3 linked regions of the Homo sapiens genome follow. The protein of the gene in region 3 interacts with the protein of the main gene of each other region in a pairwise test. Each region holds a gene or a part of one and is shown on either strand. Other genes may lie near its edges.

Region 1 (3,652 bases), on a different chromosome or scaffold from region 3:
CACAGTCTAAAAGAAAAGAATAATCCTAAAGATACAGCCAGATGCAAGGGTGACCAGGTCCTTAATAGTATAGTGAACCATTCATTTATTCACTTTATGAATGTCTACCAGATGCCGGGCACTGCCACACCGCAAAACAAAGACACACAGTCCCTGCCCTTGAGAATCTCACAGTACAACAAGGTAGGCAGCACACTGACATTAAAAACAGGTAACTATGACTCAAGACTCACCAATGTAACAAGCCAAGCCTTCAACTGACACACAAAGAGAATGTGCAGACTTCCAGGTTTCTTTTCATTTCTGCTCTGGCCGTCAAAGTGACTTCTTACTTCTGTGATGCTCAAATTCTTAAGCAGCTCCAAGCAACAGGCATGCATAGTGACATTTCAAGAAAACACCTTTCCACTGTTCATCTCAAGTGACTATCACATTGGCAACCGAAGATTTGAGTTCCCTATCCTGTAACACCCCAAAATCCACCATGTGATCTTCACTGACAGTGTTCAAAGTGGAGTTTCACATCACAAACTAAAAACCCGTTTCATCCAAAATGATGTTTTCATTGGATTAATGACACAATTCATTTCGTACAGCACTAAACTACAAAATTTGTCCCATATACAAACATTTAATTTGTAAACTGCTGACTATCCAGTAAACTATGCATATCTGCTAGCCAAAAAGTAATCCCAGGAAGAGGGACCATCTGAACTCAGTGATTGGTACAAACCACCCATTGGAAGTTTTGTTGCTCTGTGTCTGGTGCCTACTGAGTAAGTTCTTTCCTAGTAAGGAATGGGAAACACTTTGGGATCACTGATACCTTTTCTCCCAAATGTCCCCCTCCTGCTGCCCTCTCTCTTGCTAACGGTACAGCCAATTACCCATTCCCTAAGCAGAAACTTCAGAATCACTCTTGTCTCCTCCCTCTCCCCTCCTCACCTCCAATGTGTCCTGTCAATTATACTGCCAAAGTGTGGCTTGGTTTGGGCCTTACTCATTATCCTCAGTAGCTACCTTGATGGAGACCTCCTCTACTCTCATCTGGCCAGTGTGGAGACCTTCTAACTAGTCTCCTTTATCAGTCTCTCTCCCCATCCATTCTTGGCATGGCCTCCAGACTTAGCTCTCTAAAACAAAGGATCAATTCTCTTTCCTGATAACAGACAGAAAAGACTATAAGCCCTGTGATGAAAATGCCATTTGTAAGACATATCAGCAGCAAGCACAGTAGATCCTCAGTAAATATTTGTTGAAATTAAAGTTTACAAGTTCATATGCATTTTCTATAAGATCTATGCCTATTAAATAGGAACCAATTAAAATCACTAACTGACTTGCCTCAAAGAAAACAGATTGTGTTTGGGGTTTGGGTGAGAAATTAACATGATTTTATTGGTTTTTCTAATTTTAAAAGTAATACATGATCATCTAAAAGTCAGAAAAAGTCTATAAAAGATAATTTAAAATACCATAGTCCCATCATCCCCAGATGGCTAACGCTTACTAAGGGCTTATTTTAATTTTGTTATCTAATTTAATCTTCACCAAAAACCCTGTGAGATAGATGCTATTATTATCTCCCTTCTATAGAAGTTTAAAGAGAATGAGTAATTTCTGAAAAATAAGTGAAGCTAAGAATTAACAAACAAAATGTTAGTATCTTTCCAGACTTTTCCTACTGTGTCTGTATACCTTTTAAAAATAGGATCAACCTATACAAGCTATGTTATAGCCTGCTTTTCCCACCCCACAGAGTAAGAAGTCATGAATCGCTTTTCAGGTCAATTAATACCATCATGTTTATTAAGGGCATATACAGCTAAACCTACTGATCCCCAACTACCTAGCATACTGCCGATAACCAAGTAGGCAAACAAATATTTCTTGAATAAATGAATGTCGTGATTTATATAACCAAACCCTTGGCTGGGAGGGGGGAGGATGCCAGTGGACTTAATTACCCAATGCATTACTCCTGAAGGACACAATGTCCCACAGTGAACCTACCATGCTTCTCAAAAGGAATGTCATCTTCTACAAAGGGTTCAAAATCTTCCCGCTGCTTTATCATGTAGTCCACTGTCTCCTGTCTGTGCTTGAGATGATTTCGTGAGTGTCCCTCCAATTGATCACCAAGAGCTCTGAACAAGCAATTGCTGTCAAAACAACAACACGAGTCAAGACCTTTCAAAAATGAACTTAGTTCGTCTAAAACAATGATGCTTCATGCCAGATCATCCATGGAAATATTTTGTGCACACAGAGGTAAAGACTCAACTCTAATAGTCCAGGATTCTTCCAAGACCACGGGGGACAGCATGAGGGCATATTCAACCATATTACCTTCTTGAGAGGCAGCAAACAAGGATTCTATTCCCCATGTACCAGCTGGCTGACTCAGGAGAGTCATCAAACTTCCCTGGGCCTCAGCTGCTTCAACAAGTGGAGCCGGTGATACACTAACCACCTTACTACAAGGTCCAGACCTTATAGGCCATTCCATGCCTAAGGGCTATGATTTACAGATCCTCTTCCAAAATCATGTCCTATCTACAGCCTCTTTTCTAAAACAAGTTCCACTACAGCTACCCAGCTAAGTAATCATTCATTTAACAAATAGTACCCAAAAAATAGCAATTTGTCAAGCTGCCAATACTAACAACTGAACAATACTCTGTTTGAGTCCTAAGAACATAGTGGAGAAAGTCATGAGAAGGAAAGCACTTGGACAACAAACAGTTGTACTATGGAAAGACACTTCCTCCTTGCCTCCTCACTTAGCACCCAGGGAGCAACAATGCCATTGTTATTCCTGCCAAATGAAAACTTTAAACACCACATTTTGTTTCTCTAAAATTAAAATACTGGTAATAAACTGTAAGAGTTATCTTTACTTTCAAACCCCTCAAAGGCTTCTAAATTCCGAACTATCACAAACACAGAGGCTTAGATACACAGAGACTCAAACAAGACAAACACAATCTGGTATCCTTAAAACTACAGAAATAAACAATTCTGAAGCCAAACAGTTGTCCAGTTTTACACCCAACTGTTTACTCTTCCAAATGAAAAACTATGATACTGTAATTCCAAAGTATAAACTCATCACTTTCAGAAAGATTTCATGTCTAAATGTGTAGGAAAAAAGGGGGTTTTGTTTTTCAACTCAGAAAAGTGAATTTTCAACAGAAAGCTATAGAAAGGCTGGAATCTCTTCTAATGTATAAGAATATATACTTTTTTTTTTTTTGCAGGGGAGGGGAGAATTAAGACAGCTTCTATAAATTAAAAACCAAGAAGCTTTCCAACAATCTAAGACAAGATTCTAGAAGGAGTGGAATATAGAGTTCTGTAGGCTAGACTGAGGTGTCTTGCTAAAATCTGACAATGGCAGTCTTTTTTCAACCATGGAGAAAAGTAAGTTAATCGATAAAACAATTTAAATGTCAAGCTTTTCCCTCAAACTTTTCTTAATCAGCATCTGCCACCACTAGCCTATTCTTGAATTTAGTTTAAGAGATGTGATTTATCACAAATTTATGTAGTTATTTTACATTTAATGTACCAAAATTCATGGTATTCTACAGTTACATGTTTGCTAGGAACTTTTAATAACATGAGCAAATGTTCTCCAAAAAAGTAGGTG
Region 2 (3,652 bases), on a different chromosome or scaffold from region 3:
AACGAATTGTGGGAGTAGGGAGAAGATCATTAATTTGGGGCAGATTGACCTTAAATGTTGATGTAGTACCAATTTATTACATGTGACCAGTGTCCCTGTGCTAATGATTTAGTCAGTACATTAAATATTTATTTAAGTAGATAATTTGAGAACTAGAAATATAAATCAGCACGCCTGCATTTTCTGTTTCTCTTTGCAAATGACATATTTGAAGTGATGCCATTTTCTGAGAAGAAAGATGCTTCATGCAGGGAGGAATATTGAGCTATAACATTTTACTGTATTTCCCATCTTGGAAATAAATTAAACTCTCATTGAAATAAAGGTTCTTATTATATTTTTCTTAAATTCTAACCGTATTTTTACATCCTTATTCTTGTTAGCAGATTGCTTTTTGTATTAATCTGTTCTCACACTGCTATAAAGAAATACCCAAGGCCTGGTGTGGTGGCTCATGCCTGTAATCCCAACACTTTGGGAGGCCAAAGCGGAGGATTGCTTGAGCTCAGGAGTTCGAGACCAGCCTGGGCAACATGGAGAAACCCCATCTCTATAAAAAAAATATAAAAGTTAGCTGGGTGTGGTGGCACACACCTGTAGTCCCAGCTACTCAGGAGGCTGAGGCAGGAGGATTGCTTGAGCTTGGGAGGCGGACTTTGCAGTGAGCTGAGATTGCACCACTAAACTCCAGCCTGGACAACAGAGCAAGACCCTGTCTCAAAAAAAGAAATACCTGATACTGGGTAATTTATAAGAAGTTTAATTAGCTCATGTTTCTGCAGGCTATAGGAAGTATAGCGGCATCTGCTTCTGAGGAGGCCTCAGGGAGCTTTTACTCACAGCAGAAGGCAAAGCGAGAGCAGGCCATCTTACATGGTGGGAGCAGGAGCAAGAGAGAGTGAGCGGGGAGGTGCTGCACACTTTTAAAACCAGATTCCACAAGAACTCAGTCACCATCACAGAATAGCACCACAGGGATGGTGATAAACCACTCATGAGAAATCTACCCTTATGATCCAATCACCTTCCACCAGGCCCCACCTGAACACTGGGTACTATAATTTGTTATGAGATTTGATGGAGACACAGAACCAAACCATATCACTTTTTAAAACCATAATAGTTATGCTGAGAAGTTATTTTTTGTCATAGTGCAAGATAACATGTCTTTGCTGCTGATACATTGGGTAATTCAATTTCATTTAGTGATCATAATAACCTTATTATTTTTTTCTTTTTTCAGTCACGGAACAGCAAATTTCTGAGAAGTTGAAGACTATCATGAAAGAAAATACAGAACTTGTACAAAAATTGTCAAATTATGAACAGAAGGTATGATTATTCTTTGTTTTTTTTTTTTTTCATGGTCCCAGCTTGAATTATTTGTCACCTATCTTATAGTTCAGTTACTATGGTATTTTTAAATAGTATTTATTATTACATTAATTCCTATAAACCATCCAGATCTTAAGCAGTCATATGTGTAAAGTACTGTTTTCTTCTGTAAGAGGTCAGTCACTTGAAAATAAGTTCTGGTAGCACTATACTTTATATTTCTGGATTCTGAATGCTTTATTTTATATAGATCAAGGAATCAAAGAAACATGTTCAGGAAACCAGGAAACAAAATATGATTCTCTCTGATGAAGCAATTAAATATAAGGTAAAAACTTCTTTTGGGGATTACATTTTAAAACAAAAGTAAAAGTAATGAGTATAACTAACCTTAATATCTTTTTTGTAGGATAAAATCAAGACACTTGAAAAAAATCAGGAAATTCTGGATGACACAGCTAAAAATCTTCGTGTTATGCTAGAATCTGAGAGAGAACAGAATGTCAAGAATCAGGACTTGGTAAGAGTTTTGCTGCTAAGTATTACTAATAATTTGGGTTTTGAACTCTTTTGTAGATTGAGTTGAACTCTTTATTTTCCATGCTGTTATGTGAAGTAAGAGTGCGAGTCAGGGAAGTTGAACCTACTTCTGTCCATTTTTGTGGAATTTTAAGTACTTACACAAGAAATTATTCTTACAGGCCTAGGAAGTATTTTGGTTCTCAACCCTAGGTAATTGTCATATTGCTTGGCTCTGCCCTCCGAAACATGTGGAACAACTAAGAAACCCAGTTGAACAGTCCTTGTGTTTTGTTTTGTTTTGCAAAGTTTTTTTTTTTTTTTGCTATAAACATTTTATTTTATTAATAGAATAGTTTTAGAATGACCTAAAAGTTGCAAAGATAGTAGAGAGGGTTCCATAAATCCCACACCCTATTAATCTTGATGACCTCGTTGAGGTAGTATTGCCAGGTTTCTTCACTGTAAAATTACTTTTTTTTTTTTTAAACTTTTTGCATTATTGTACTCTTTGGAAGGAAGTTACTATCGCAGCCCACAGTTAAAAAGTGAAGGGTTATGCTCCATCCTCTTGAGGAGCCAGAATCTTCATAAATTATCTAGAATTCTATATGGGTGATCTGTCTATTCTCACTCCAATCCTACCATTTTTAATTTAGGCAAGAGCAATTGGTGTTTGACAAAACAATTGTCAAATTGTACTAAATTAAAGTACCTTGGGGATTATTTTTTTCTCTTGCCACAAGAAAAAAAAAAGTCACATTGATTTGAACTGGTTTACTTAAAAGTTTTTTCAGTTTCTTTTCTTTCACCTTTTAGTCTGGTCATCTACCACATTTTATTCTAACCAGGAAGGTTGTGTATGCTGTGAAATATTTATGCCTTTGATTATTTTCCCTTACCTCTTTAAGTTCTTGATTTTTCCCGAGGGCAAAACTGAAACACCTGCTTTTACCTGAAACATAGGGGATGGCTCTGGGACATACTTTGTTGATGTTTCTTCTTCTTAGTATGTATCCCAGTGTTTCTACTAAAATCCTAATATGCATTTTGTGTTCTGTTTTTACATGGCAGATATCAGAAAACAAGAAATCTATAGAGAAGTTAAAGGATGTTATTTCAATGAATGCCTCAGAATTTTCAGAGGTAAAGCTGACTGTAATTCCTGCAGGATATTAATACTATATCATAGTTTGATTGCAGAGCAAAAATTTGATATATGCTAAAATGTGCAAAAAATGAAAACTACATGATGTTGGGTTGGAAAAGTAACTTTTTCTGGTTTTCTTTGGAATTAATTCACTAATAGGAGTGTTTTGCATTAGGTTCAGATTGCACTTAATGAAGCTAAGCTTAGTGAAGAGAAGGTGAAGTCTGAATGCCATCGGGTTCAAGAAGAAAATGCTAGGCTTAAGAAGAAAAAAGAGCAGGTAAAGGAAAGTGCGTGTCCCAGGTCATGTAAAATAGAGAACTCAGTATCATACCTCATGAATGCCTTTACTCAGATCTATTTTTAGGGTAATATATGTGCAGGATTCTGTTCTTAGATATGCAAAGTTTAAACTATGCTTCCAAAATTGAGTGTAGGTATACATTCTCTATCTGTTCTGGATTTTCTGTTCTGTACAATTTATTTTGGCTATCAGAGTGTGTAGTCTTGTTTTGTCAGACACCAATTGCTATTAACTTGAGTAGCCTCGAGTGGGTAGTAGATTGGCTTTTTAGACCCAAGAGTTAGATATTTTATAACCCTCCTTTGAGTAGTTACTGCTTCACTAGCCAAGGGAAGGTTACATGA
Region 3 (3,652 bases):
TGCCTGGACTCCATGCTCTTTTTAAAAATTAATTAATGAATTATTTTTTTTTTGAGACAAGGTCTCACTCTGTCACCTAGGCTGGAGTGCAGTTGCACGATCTCAGCTCACTGCAACCTCCGCCTCCTGGGCTCAAGCTGTGATACCCTAACCTTGTTTTAACCTGAATTGACTCTCCCTTAGGTGAGCGAGCCAGACAGACTCCATCCTGGCTCCTTCACTTGCAGCCCCTTAACCCAACCCCCCTTTCTTCAAGGACTTAACTTGTGCAAGCTGACTCCCAGCACATCAAAGAATGCAATTACTGATAAGATACTGTGGCAAGTTATATCCGCAGTTCCCAGGCAGTCGCCCGATTAATAGTACCCTAAGCCCCCGCGTTTCTGTCTGGTTGATAGCGCCCAACGTCCAGCGTCTATCACCTTGGGATGTGTTTAAAGCCCCTGCACCTGGAACTGTCTGCTTTCCTGTAACCATTTATCTTTCTAACTTTTTTTGCCTGCTTTACTTCTGTAAGATTGTTTTAACTAGACTCCCCCCTCCCCTTTCTAAACCAAAGTATAAAAGAAAATCTAGCCCCTTCTTCGGGGCCGAGAGAATTTTGAGCGCTAGCCGTCTCTGGGCTGCCGGCTAATAAAGGACTCCTGATCTTGTCTCAGAGTGTGGCGTTTCTCTATAACTCGCTCGGTTACAACAAAGCAATCCTCCCGCCTCAGCCTCCCAAGTACCTGAGGCGCACCACCATGCTCAGGTAATTTCCGTATTTTTTGTAGAGACGAGGGTTTCACTATGTTGCCCAGGCTAGTCTCGAATTCCTGGGCTTAAGGGATCCTCTTGCCTCGGCCTCCCAAAGTGCTGGGATTACAGCTGTGAGCTACTGGACCTGGCCTATTTATTTATTTATTTATTTATTTATTTATTTTTGAGACAGCATCTTGCAATGTTGCCCAGGCTGTATGCAGTGGTGTGTACATAGCTCATGGCAGCCTTGACTTCCTGGGCTCAAACGATCCTCCCACCTCAGCCACCTGAGTAGCTGGGACTACAAGGGCACCACTACGCCTAATTTTTTAAACTTTTTGTAGAGATGGGGGGTTTCGCTGTATTGCCCCAGCTGTCTTGAACTCCTGACCTCAAGTGAACCTCCCACAAGGACCTCCCAAAGCACTGGGATTAAAGGTGTGAGCCACTGTGTCTGGCCCCAATATGTTCTTAACATCCCCTCCTACCACCACCAGTCTGGAAGGTTCTAGAAGGTTCCTAAGACTGGGCTATGTAGCTACAAAGGTAGATTTGCTGGATGTAGAGATTCGCAGTCATTTATCTTCCTTTTGGAATAAGGAGATTAAACTAAATAACAGAAAATAGATGGCCAGGCGTGGTGACTCAAGTCTGTAATCCCAGCACTTTGGAAGGCCAAGGCAGGCAGATCACTTGCAGTCAGAAGCATAGCTACCAAAAATTATGAAATTTAGCTGGTTTTGTGGCCCGCACCTGTAATCCCAGTTACTCAGGAGGCTGAGGCACGAGAATCGCTTGAACCCAGGAGGTGGAGGTTGCAGTGAGCTGAGATCACACCACTGTCCTCCAGCCTGGGCGACAGAGAGAGACCCTGTCTCCAACAAACAAACAAATAAAAAGAACGGAAAACATTTTGCTCTTAGACAAAATGCATCACACAATCCACCTATCAGGAGGCTGCTCGGGCCTGGCGGCAGGGTCGCCAGCCCTCACCTTGGTCAAGGTGTACGTCCCCAGTAGGTTCAGCTCCAGCAGCTGGCGGAATCCCTGGGCAGAGGTCTCCTCAGGCCTCTGTGGGGGTGGGTCTAAAGTGGGGGGTGAGAGAGAGAGGAAAAGTGACGGGGGCTGGACACAGTTGCCCACGCCTGTAATCCCAGCACTTTGGGAGGCTGAGGCAGGCGGATCATGAGGTCAGGAGTTCAAGACCAACCTGGCTGACAGGGCAAAACCCTGTCTCTACGAAAAATACAAAAATTAGCTGGGTGTGGTGGCGGGTGCCTATATTCCCAGCTACTCAGGAGGCTGAGGCAGGAGAATTGCTTGAACCTGGGAGGTGCAGGTTGCAGTGAGCCTAGATCGAGCCACTGCACTCCAGCCTGGGCGACAGAGTGAGACCCCATCTCAGAAAAAAAAAAAAAAAAAAAGCCGGGTGCAGTGGCTCATGCCTGTAATCCCAGCATTTGGGGAGGCCGAGGTGGGCAGATCATCTGAGGTCAGGAGTTCAAGACCAGCCTGGCTAACATGATGAACCCCATCTCTACTAAAAATATAAAAATTAGCCTGGCGTGCTGGTGGGCGCCTGTAATCCCAGCTACTTGGGAGGCTGAGGCAGGAGAATCGCTTGAACCCAAGAGGCAGAGGTTGCAGTGAGCTGAGATCACACCACTGCACTCCAGCCTGGACGACAGAGTGCGACTCCATCTGAAAAAAAAAGAAAAGAAAGAAGAGAAGAGAAGAAAAAAGAAAAGAAAAGAAGAGAGACATGGCCAAGTGAGGGCACAGCCCTGGGGACACACAGGAGGGATGGAACAGGGCCACAGTTTCAGCACAGGCCTGGGGGGCTTCCATTGCTTTACTCTCCTGTCCAAGTGGCTAGAAAGAGGTATGAGGCAGGATGAGGGAATCAGGGGCAGGGAGTGGGGAAACTGACGTGCAGGAAACAGAGTTGGGGGGCAGGAGGTGGAGAATGGCCCTGGGGTCTCACAACTCACGGTGGCCAGCGTTGTTGACAACACAATCCAGGCGGCCAAATCGGCGGATGGTCTCAGAAACCAGGGTCTGAGGAGAAAGGAAATGTCCTTTGTTTTTTTTTTTTGGAGACGGTGTCTCCCTCTTGTCACTCAGGCTGGAGTGCATTGGCACGATCTTGGCTCACTGCAACTTCAGCCTCCTGCGTTCAAGCAACTCTCCTACCTCAGCCTCCCAAGTAGCTGGGATTACAGGCGACTGCCACCACGCCCGGCTAATTTTTGTACTTTTTAGTAGAGACAGGGATTCACTAGGTTAGCCAGGCTGGTCTCAAACTCCTGAGCTCAAGTGATCCACCCGCCTCAGCCTCCCAAAGTGCTGGAATTACAGGTACCACGCCCAGCCCAGGAAATGTCCTTTGAATGAGCAGTAGATGGGGTGTCCAGCCATAAAGAAGACAGGGCTCCCAAATGCAAGGCAGGAGGGGGAAGCTGAACTCCCAGGTCAGGGGACAAGAGCTAGAGGAAGAGGGGACTCCGAGATCAGCAGACACAGCAGGCAAGCAGGAGACAGGAAGGAGACAGGGGGCTGGTCAGAGCCACACTGCAGTCGTCACACCCAGGGTCAGGGGGTGGGGCAGGGGGGTGACAAGGATTCAGAGAGCGCGTAGGGGACAGTTGCCCAAGGGGGGCAGATAACAGAGAGATACTGATTAAAAGGAAGAAATAGGAACCCAGAAATAATGGAGAAAAAATCAGTTACATACAGGCCACGTGCAGTGGCTCACACCTGTAATCCCAACACTTTGGGAGGCTGAGGTGGGCGGATCACCTGAGGTCAGGAGTTCGAGACCAGCCTGGCCAACATGGTGAAACCCTGTCTCTACTAAAACTACAAAAATTAGCCAGACACGGTGGCTCATGCTTGTAATCCCAGCACTTTG

Evidence for each region.
Region 1: the proteins of HSD17B14 (region 3) and OTUD3 interact in binary tests that used the Homo sapiens proteins (3 or more experiments, as listed by UniProt).
Region 2: the proteins of HSD17B14 (region 3) and MIA3 interact in a two-hybrid assay, tested with the Homo sapiens proteins (one large-scale study listed by BioGRID and IntAct).

What each region holds. Positions count from the first base shown.
Region 1 is NC_000001.11:19,888,895-19,892,546, reverse strand, and holds part of OTUD3 (OTU domain-containing protein 3), read right to left. Parts: exon of another isoform or gene 2,388-3,652; coding exon of another isoform or gene 2,350-2,387; intron 2,344-2,349; exon of another isoform or gene 2,163-2,343; coding exon 2,014-2,162; intron 1-2,013.
Region 2 is NC_000001.11:222,649,049-222,652,700, forward strand, and holds part of MIA3 (transport and Golgi organization protein 1 homolog isoform 1 precursor), read left to right. Parts: intron 1-1,243; coding exon 1,244-1,332; intron 1,333-1,585; coding exon 1,586-1,663; intron 1,664-1,744; coding exon 1,745-1,855; intron 1,856-2,928; coding exon 2,929-3,000; intron 3,001-3,179; coding exon 3,180-3,284; intron 3,285-3,652.
Region 3 is NC_000019.10:48,829,934-48,833,585, forward strand, and holds part of HSD17B14 (L-fucose dehydrogenase), read right to left. Parts: intron 2,800-3,652; coding exon 2,733-2,799; intron 1,827-2,732; coding exon 1,735-1,826; intron 1-1,734. UniProt on the Homo sapiens protein: Catalyzes the NAD(+)-dependent oxidation of L-fucose, yielding L-fucono-1,5-lactone, which rapidly converts spontaneously to L-fucone-1,4-lactone. Can also act on D-arabinose and L-galactose, with lower catalytic efficiency. Does not use NADPH.